Linked DNA regions of Homo sapiens. The protein of the gene in region 1 interacts with the protein of each later gene in a pairwise test. Each region holds a gene or a part of one and is shown on either strand. Other genes may lie near its edges.

What was found. Proteins that work in one complex are often made in the same cells at the same time.
Region 2: the proteins of NOL4 (region 1) and C1QTNF2 interact in binary tests that used the Homo sapiens proteins (3 or more experiments, as listed by UniProt).

The regions. Positions count from the first base shown.
Region 1 is NC_000018.10:34,213,914-34,219,491, forward strand, and holds part of NOL4 (nucleolar protein 4), read right to left. Parts: intron 1-5,578.
Region 2 is NC_000005.10:160,360,216-160,365,095, forward strand, and holds part of C1QTNF2 (complement C1q tumor necrosis factor-related protein 2 isoform 1 precursor), read right to left. Parts: intron 1-4,880. UniProt on the Homo sapiens protein: Involved in the regulation of lipid metabolism in adipose tissue and liver.

The DNA.
Region 1 (5,578 bases):
AAACATTCATTTTACTTTTAAAAGGTCCATATTTAAATAAGTACTCCATATAGAATTCTCCACTTGAGTTTTTAGTAGGATTTCTCCAATGGGAAATCTTTGTAGTTGTGAATGTACTAATAACTAAGAGGTCAACAATTATTCCTCCTTAGTTTCCCTCTACATATAAAAATATTTTATTACAAGATGACAGAAAGTATTTTAGCTGAGTGTAAAGTCTTAAATTCAATGTTCTCTGAGAGGCAATATGGTGTTATAAATTAGAATAAGGTATTCAAATTGGTATGTGTACACTCAGGCAGTGCATAAGATAACCTATTGAGGTGAAGAAGGAAATGTTAAAACTTGGATTTATATATATTTTAATCTCAGCCCAATATATTTGTACTTTTAAATATAGTTTATAATGGGTTAAGTATTGGTAGAGTGTTATATAGATGTAGTTTATAAAAGTGTATATACTGGGGGAATCTTTTTTAGCAAATGAGTTACGTTATCATTAGAATTTGGAAACCAGTGATTTAAAGCAAGGGCCTTAGAATCCAAATGGTTTCTTGTCCCAAGCTGTGTGATTTTTAGAAATTCACCTTAATGTAAACCATAATCTTCACATAAGTATAATAAAAAGTGTTAATACCATAGGACTATTGTGAAGATTAAAGGGACTTTTTGTTTCAAATTATTATTATTAGTAGGGAGATCCTCAAAAAATTAGAACTACCATATGATCCAGCAAACCTGCTTCTGTGTACATATCCAGAAAAATTGAAAGTAGGGTTTTGAGGAGATATCTGCCCACTCGTGTTCATTGCAGCACTACTCACAATAAAAGAAGTACAAGCAATCCAAATGGCCATCAACTAATGAATGGACAAACAAAATGGCATATACCTACAATGGAATATTATTCAGCCTTTAAAAGGAGGAAAATCTTGTCACATATAATTATAACATGGATGAATCTTAAAGACATTATGCTAGTAAAATGAGTCAGTTATAAAAAGACAAATTCTGTATGATTCCACTTATATGAGGCATCTAAAGTAGTTCAATTCATATAATCAGAAACTAAAATGGCACTTCACCAAGTGATGGAGAGAAAGGAAAAAGGGGAACTGTTGTATAATATAGTTTCTGTTATGCAAGATGAAAAAGCTCTGGAGATCTGTTGCAAGACAATGTGAATATACTTAACACTACTTAAGTCTACAATGTAAAATGATTAATATGGTAACTTTTATGTTGTGTGTTTTTTTTATCACAATTAAAACACATAGTTGGATGGATGGACAGTTGGACAGATAGATATAGATGTAGATAAAACTAAAAAGCTCTTGTGTGGTGGTAAATAAGAAGCTGTTGTATAATGTCCCATTATGTCATGTCAGATTGGGAAGTGATTTTTATTTATTCCATTAATACTGAACATCAAAATGCATCACCCATTATGCCAGGTACTGGAGATTAAATCTTTCTTCAAAATAGTTTTGTGGAAATTTAACAAATTATTAAGCAATAGGCATATTTTATTATATGGTGAGAATCTGATGGCTTCAAGAAATATTAGTTTAGTAGAATCAACCAACAGTTGAACATTGACTATAAGAGGGAGAAATCAAGGCTGCCATACAAATTTCACCTTGTACAGGTAAGTAAAGTTGTGCTGCTATCCATGGAGAGAGGGAATAAGAAAAAGATGTGTCAGCTCGGAGGACCTCGGATGGGAAAATGGAAGGAAGAAAAATGTGTTTCTAGACATACTTAATTTGAGATATTTTGGGATATCTTGGTGAAAACACCCAATAGAAAATCGAAAATACAGCTGACCCTTGAACAACCTGGGGTTAGGTGTACTGACACCCTCTGCCCCTGAAAACCTGCATATAATTTTGCTCCCCCAAAACTTAACTACTAATAGTCTACTGTTGACTGCAAGCCTTAGCAAAAAGATAGTCTATTAAGCCATAAATAGACTAGTGCCTGCATAGATTTTAAGCATTCATGGCATATATTTTTCTTAGATTTTTTATATTTCTAGATTATGCAGTTTATCTGAGAGTTTTTTCAAATTGTTATATATTTCCAAAAATTTTCCAAATACTTATTGAAAAAAATCCACATACAAGTGGACCCAGGCAATCCTGACCTGTGTTGTTCAAGGATCAACTGTACAGATTTAGACTTCAGAAGATATACATTATGTCACCAGAACACAGGCCTAACTGAAGTCATAAACAGGGGCACAGTTACGCAGGACAAAATATAGAGTTAGACAAGAAATTCAAATATATCTTAGCAAAATAATTTAATTTCAAGGATAAAGAAGTAAACAATTCATGAAATTTGGGAAAATCAATTTGCCTTAGAATTTTACAGAGCACACACAATATCTATAATGTTCTGAGAGAAAAAGTAAAATACAGAATCTGCATCTGGTTAGTTGTCCTTCAAGGATAAAGGTAAAAGACAAATACTCTCAATTGTATATAAAATTCAAAGAATAGAGTGCATGGACCTACTTTAGGAAAAAAATGATAAACTGTAATTAGAGTCAATCAAATCAAGGAATTCAGAGGTAAAGGAAACCAGATAACAAAACAGATAATAAACATTTAAATAGGAAAATAATGTTTAAAATGAAATTACATAATTTAACATTAATATCAACAACCCTGACAACACAAACATAATTATAATATAATGAATATAATAAATTATAATATATAATAAGTATAATATAATAAGTGAAATGAAATGTAAACCAGGATCTAAGAAACAAGGAGGTGGGAAGAAGTGAAAATATGCTTCTCATTTATCATTAGAGAAAGTCAATAATACTTATAAAACGGAAATTTGTAATTGGTAAAATAAGTGTAATTCAACATCTTAAAGTTTTTCTTAATCTTTTCCATTAACTTCAGGAATAAATATCTTTGAGAAGAAACATTTATCTATTAGCAATTCATTAAATTTTATGTATTTCTTCTTTTGTCGCATTGACAATCTTATATTTTCTTATTCTTACTTAAATTAGCATATCATCATCATCCTAGTTTTAGAAAATTATTTCTGCCTGTCCATATGCAACTATCAGTCATTTTATCGACTCTTCTTTTGGCATATATTTCTAGAGAGGAATCTAGAATGATGTTCATAATTAGCTTACGGTGATTATATTTTGATGGGACATTTGGTATGACTTTTTCTTTATTTCTTTCCTTTTCATTTAACTTTTTTAAAAAACTGAGACAGTATCACTTTTACAATAACAGTCATTTTTTCTTCCAAAAATGGAGTAGGTAGAATAAATCTTAATAATACATATGTACATAAATACATACAAGTATACCTTGTATTTCTTTCTTTTTTTTTATTTATTTATTTTTTTTGAGATGGAGTCTCACTCTGTTGCCCAGGCTGGAGTGCAATGGTGCGATCTCGGCTCACTGCAACCTCCGCCTCCCGGGTTCAAGCAATTCTCCTGCCTCAGCCTCCCGAGTAGCTGGGACTACAAGGGCACATGGCCACACCCAGCTAATTTTTTTTGTATTTTAGTAGAGATGGGGTTTCACTGTGTTGCCCAGGCTGGTCTCAAACTCCTGAGCTCAGGCAATCCGCCTGCCTCAGCCTCCCAGAATGCTAGGATTACAGGCATGAGCCACCGCGCTTGACCTTGTATTTTAGCTCCGTGTTGCAATGTGATTTTGAGTTCATAAAATATACCTAATTATAATTACATCGTGATTTTCATGTTCTATGAATCATATTTTAAGCAACTTTTTTTTTTAGCATTTACTATGTCCCCGGCATATGCTACATATACCACATGCTTGTGTGTATGTGTGTGTATATGTATGTGTATATATGTGTGCATATGCATATATAGTATATGTTAGTATATATTATATACACTACTAACTATGCAAAACTAGTAAGACTAGTATTAATACTAACATTTTACAAGAGGAAACTGCATCTTTAGTTAAACTTTAGCCGACCCAGAACTCCAGTAAACGTCAGAGCCAGGATTTAAATTGTGCTGTAAAATCAACACTCTACTCACTATGCCATGTTTCTTGCCATCTATGCTATCCATGAAGTTTGTTTTATCTTGTTATATAAAGATTGTAAAAATGAATATAACCTAAAACATAGTAGATTCACATTCATCTTTCCCAGTTAGACCAAAAAAAAAAAAACAAAAAACAAAGAGTGAAAGTCTTAGCAAACACAACAGCTATTAGGAAAAGGTCTTTATAGACTTGACACAAAATTAAAGTCCTTGAAAGTTCTCCTGCCATATGCCTGTATTTTCTACTTCATCATTCCTCCGTCTTATGCAGTGAGTCTAGAGAGTAAACCCGTAGGGAGCAGGATCCCAGCAAACTAAGGAAGATTACAGAAGAAATATATACGAGTGCCAAATCTTGCCCCATCTCCCTATTGTGGCTACTAATAGGACAAGGAAGAACCAACGGAAAAATAAAAAACTGGTATCTCAAGAAATAAGTGTGGGATAGTCTTCATACACGAACAGGGTCATATTTCCTCTTTATATTCAGAGGAAATCTCCTGCCCCTTAATACTCAAGCCAGAATGGCCTTTACTACTGGTCCCCACTGTTCCCTGCGAGCTGACCTATGCTGGGGACTTGTCATAGATGATTTATTCTTCACAACTCCACAAAGAATCACTAAGTCAGCTAATAAGCCACATTGCTGATATTCATTCTCGGGATCTATTTGACCCCCAAATCCTATGCTACAGGATCTCCCAAAGTACTTTAATGAAAAGAAAAATGCATGGGCTATCAACAGCAATGTCCACTATAGAAGCAAAAATGTGCTTCCATCTCAGTGACCACTATGATGATTTGTCTTTGTGTCATAGATACAAAGTATCATGATAAATAACTGGGTCTGTAGCAGATTCCAGATCAAGGCCTAATATAGGTGCCTTAGGCATAAAGTTAGGCCAGGTGGAAAGGTATACAGGACTCCTCATGGGGTATTATTTCTTTCACTCTGATGTAGCATAAAGGATTTATGACCAAAACCACAGTCAGAAAAATAACAAAAACAGTTACTGTTTATGAGTCAGTCCATGAATATTCATTATAATCACTGTACAGTAATCAATTAGTAGTATGCACAGCAAGAACAATATGAAATCTGAGGCTACAGATTGCAGAACTGAATAAATCATCATTTGTAAATAGCACAACTAAAGATAATGCATTTTCCTTTCTGGATGGAAATTCATTTAAGACCTGTATTGGAATAAATATAAGAAAGAAATATATATAAGAAAGGCATAATTTAGACCTTTGTGTCTGTTCCTACAAATATAGGTTAAGAAAAGTATTACATCTTTTGATTATACAGTTTCAATATTCATATTCATTACTTTCTTTGCTTGATACTGAAAGACAAAAACATGAGCTTACCAAATTCCTAATGTTTTATACAATGCAGAGGACTTTTTAAAAAGAGCGTTTAATAAATTTTCTCCTTTTCTAAGTTTACCATTCACAATATCAAATGGTATAATGTGTTCTGGTAGTTTAAACTGCAAGTGT
Region 2 (4,880 bases), on another chromosome or scaffold:
TGTCTCCACTAAAATGTAAGCTCCATGAGTACAGGACCCCAGCTGGCCACCTGGCTTCAAACTTCCTCACACACAGTGAATGTTCAAGAAATATTTGCTTAATTAGTAAGTGTTGGAGACGCAGACTCTGCCCTCAAGAAAATCCACAGCGAAGAGAAAACCAGACAGTGGCTGAAATCCAGAAGAGAGAGCACTGACACCCCTTGATACAAATCTGTTCTTTTTTCCTCTGCTTTTCTAACCCGAATCAGATCAAATCCCTCCTTGCTTTTGACCCCTTACAGTATAGGGGCTAGGTTGTTCCCTCTCTGGCCCCTAGGGTGGGGCCAGCCTTGCAGAATGCCTTAGATAGAGTAGGTGCTCCATAGAGAGCTGTCCAATTAACCAGAAGAGAGGTAAGTATTAGTCCTTTCTCACCTGTAAAAAAACAATCTGAGTTCCTAAATTGTCCTTTCTGGGGGTGGGAAGGTGTTAGTTTAATATGGAAGCCTTCATTAGAGCCTTCCTACTAAAGGGATAAAAAATATTAGTTGGTTAAACCCCAGAAATGGAATTGTGGGTTGATAAACTTGGATGAGTTCTTTTTTTTTTTTTTTTTGAGATGGAGTCTCGCTCTGCTGCCAGGCTGGAGTGCAGTGGCGCAATCTCAGCTCACTGCAACCTCCATCTGCTGGGTTCAAGCAATTCTCCTGCCTCAGCCCCCTGAGTAGCTGGGACTACAGGTGCGCACCACCATGCCCGGCTAATTTTTTGTATTTTTAGTAGAGACGGGGTTTCATCATGCTGGCCAGGCTGGTCTCGAACTCCTGACCTCGTTATCCACCTGCCTCGCCTCAAAGTGCTGGGATTACAGGTGTGAGCCACTGTAGCTGGCTGAACTTGGATGAGTTCTTAAGTCTGGCTTTCAGCTGCCCAGTCCCTGGGCTTCTCATCTCTCTGTTAAGTAGCTAATGATTCATCAATACACATGTTCTAGAAAAGCGCTAGGAGCTAAAGTGCCACAGGCTGGGTCTACTGTCAGGGAAGTCTTCCTCCTGGCCCACAGGACATGGCCCTCTGGTTTATTCCCAAGGGCCCTCTGCCCAGACTGTGATGTGAGAGGTGCCAAAAGTGGGGACGTGGGCCTCTCATTGATCCTTCCTGAATGTGTCTGCTAGTAGTAGAAGCTCCAGGAATACTTGTCTTGAGCAAGCCTACTAGGCCTGGGTGCTGAACAGTCTCCCGTTGCAGATTGGAAGATGTAAATTATGCTCAAATAAATCTGGCCTGTTGGTTATCAGGTTTTGACACACTGACAGATAGGAGTGGCATTTAACTCCGTGGTTAAGAGCCATGGAACACCCAGCACTTGATTCCCTCAACTATGCAATGAAAATAATAGTATACCTACCTCAGGGAGTTTGTGTGAGAAATGAGTGAAGGAATGCATTCAAAGATTCTATTTAGCCCAGTGTTTGACACTGTAAACGCTCCACGGTTGGAAAGAACTGTGCCTAAAATGCCCCCAGTCCTTAACCTCCTCTGGGAAGCCCTCAGGTAGCTGCCAGCCTCATCCTTCAAGTCTCAGGTCTCATATCATCTCCTCAGAGAGACCTGCCCTGATCACGTGATCCAAAGCATTGCACCCATCCTGCATATGCTCTTATCCCATCCTGTTCTTTCAAGGCACCTGGCCCAATTTGTGATTATGTATTTGTTTGTTTCTTGACTTGTTAACTCTCTGGCTCTTTCCCTGGAATGGAAGGTCCAGGAACGTATGGGCCCTGCATGTTGCTCTCAGCTGGGCTGCTGGAGCCTAGCGCAGCACTGCATAGAGTAAGTGCTCAACACGCAGCTGTTGAATAACCTTGAATGAACTGGCCGCCCTTACGGAGACTGGAATAATCCAGGGTGGTCATAGGAGAAAAATCCCAGGCAGCAATTTGACATGATTAGAGGCTATATAGACCGATAAGACCCTGAAAAACAGGGTGTGGACCAAGCTGGCTAAGACCCACTGGACCCAACATGTTGATGGATTTGATCTAGGTTTCACCTAGGACCTCTTTATACGCTGATTCATGTACTCAATCACACACCCACCAGTGCCACGACAGCTCCGAGAACACCCATATTTGGTGTAGAAATGAGTGGCACCACAGTTCCGGGAAATCTCCACCTTTTTCCAGGAATTTTCATGAATATTCCACCTCTTGGTTAAAGAAACCCATAAAGATAGAAACCCCAAACACTTCTGCCCAACTCTCTCTTGAGAATGCCCACAGCCCCCTCTCCTGAGTGTGTACTGTTTTCCCTTGCAAAAAATCACCATACTTTCACAATTTTCTGACTCATCCTTGAATTCCTTCTTGAGATGGTGTCAAGCGCCTGGACACTGGCTGGGGTCGAGGTCCCACTGGCGTTTGAGGACCTCCCCAGCCCACCGGTATTATTATAATTTATAAAACAAGGGGATCTCAAGGGTCTCAATAAACGTGCGGATGACAAAGCCTCACTTGGCTACTGAGGAAAACCCAGTGCAATGACTGGGCTTGGATTCTGAAGACTGGGGTCCCAGTCCTAGTTTTGTAACTTACTGATCGCGTGACTGTGAAAGTCAGTTCATCTTATCTGGGCCTTCATTTCCTCACCTGTAAAATGGAGATATTAACATTTGCCCAGTCTGCCTTACAGGGTTATTCAGAGAATCAAATAAGATAGTGGATTTGAAAACAAAACGTGATACAAAATTAGAGTCGTATTTAAAATTGTAATTGTTACTAGTTGCAATTGAACTAAGGGATCACAGTCCTGAACTCCCACTGGGAGCCCCAGGAGTGTTTCAGGGGAGGCCTCATCCTTGGTGGAGGAGGACACCCAAATCTCACCCAGCAGGGCAATTCTCCCTGTGTTTGGTGTTAAAAGGGACAAGGTTTGCTTGCAGATGAAGCTTGCTGAAAATCCACTTTGATGGGAGAATAGAATACTATAATAAAAAACACTCCACGCCCTCCCTGAATTCCAGGAAGTAAATTGGAAACAGTCCTCTCCAGCTTCTCTGAAAAGCTAAAGAGATCCTTTGGAGGAAAAAGCGGCTGGCTGCCGCTCCTCACAGTACTCACGAAATGTCCCCTCTCTCCAGATCTCAAGATCAGTGTCCTTTTGGAAACTGTCCAGAATCCAGAGTCTAAATACAGAGGCTTAAAAGTCCTGGGGCCCACTTGACAGGATGCCTCAGAAAATATTTGATCTGCTATTTTCTCTCTCCTCATTTCTGGTTCAGCCTAGAAAATGAGATCCAAGGACACATCATGATCTAACAAGGTCTCAGAAGCCAGGGGTTTGTCTCAGCAAGAATTCCTGAAAGCACACAGGAAATCAGCCTGTATGTTAAAGCTGAAGAATTATACCTTCTAATATATACAAGCCCAGCCTTTACAAAATGACAAATGTGGTGTATAACGTGGTGGGCAGTGGAGCCCACCCCCTGGGCCCTGGCCTGCTGCACGTCTGAGCCTCAGCTGCCTCCTCTGCACAATAAGGGCAAGAGTCAGGCTCTGGAGCGGCTGAAGACAAAGCCATCAAGCTTTGGCATTGTCTGCAGCTGTTTTCTGCCACGTGGAGACCAAGGACTGCCATGGGAGAGAAGAATGCAGCAGCTGTGCGAGATGTGAGGGGTAGAGAAGGCGGCTGAGGGTGTTCATATCCCCATATCGCATCCTCAGGGCCAGTCTCCACGTGCCTGACCACAGCGGTGGGGGAGTGGGTGTGAGCAGCTCAGCCCAATAGGAAAATGACGCAAGTCACATGTGTCAGTTTGTCTTGTAGTCACATTAAAAAAGTAAAAAAGAAACAGGTGAAATTAATTTCAATGCTATTTAGCCCTTGATTTCCCAAATATCATCATTTCAACATGTAATCACCATAAAAATTATTAATGAGACATTTTACATTCTTAAGTTAGTACTAAGTCTTTGAAGCCCAGTGATGTATTTCACACTTGCAGCGGATCTCAATTCAGACTGGAGCATTCCAAGTCTCCAATAGCCGCATGGTGGCTTCCATAATAGCTCCAGCATAGCTGTGTGAGTTCAGATGCCATGAACTAGCTGTAGTACCTTTACACGTTACTTAATCTCTCCCCTTCAGTCTCCTCCTCTCCAACATGAACACGATAATAATAGAACCTACCTTAGACAGTTGTTACGAGGATTTAATGTTTCTAGAATAAGGCCTGGCATATGGCAAGAGGTATAAAAGCATTAGCTTCTATTATTTTATTATTTCTTGCCCTTCCGAAAATCAAACAAGATAATGGATGTTGAATGTAATGATACGAGTTTTAAGACCTTGTTTAAAATTGTAATTGCCACTAACTGCAGTTGAACTAACAAAAACCAGTCCTGATCTGCCACCCTGAGTCCTGCATGCATTTCAGGTAGAGACTCCTGTAGCTTCTCATAAATTCCCATTTTCACTTATCACTTTGAGTGATGGCTCTGTCAGGTGCTACCAAAAAAAAGTCCTAGGGAGGCTGGGCCTTTTTTCCTGCCTTGCTGTTTCTGCTCTGAGGGAAGGATGGGGTGTTGCCTTGGCTCCACAACTTTGAGCCACCTGGCGTGTCTGTGCTCCATAATACAAAGACCAGGGAAGAAGCGGGATGGTGCTCATCTCATCAAGCGACAGGGCCAAATGGGATATGAGGTGTGCATGTGTGCATGATACTGTAGCCTGGCACATGGATACCCAATAAATAGTATGGTTTATTATTACTGCCTTTGAGGCCAGACACTGGGGAATTAGAGGTGAAAAGATGTAGTTGCTGCTCCTGTAGGGCCCACTCTGATCCCTAGAACTACCTGGGCAGGTTATAACTGTCTGCTTACCTGAGCATCCAGCTG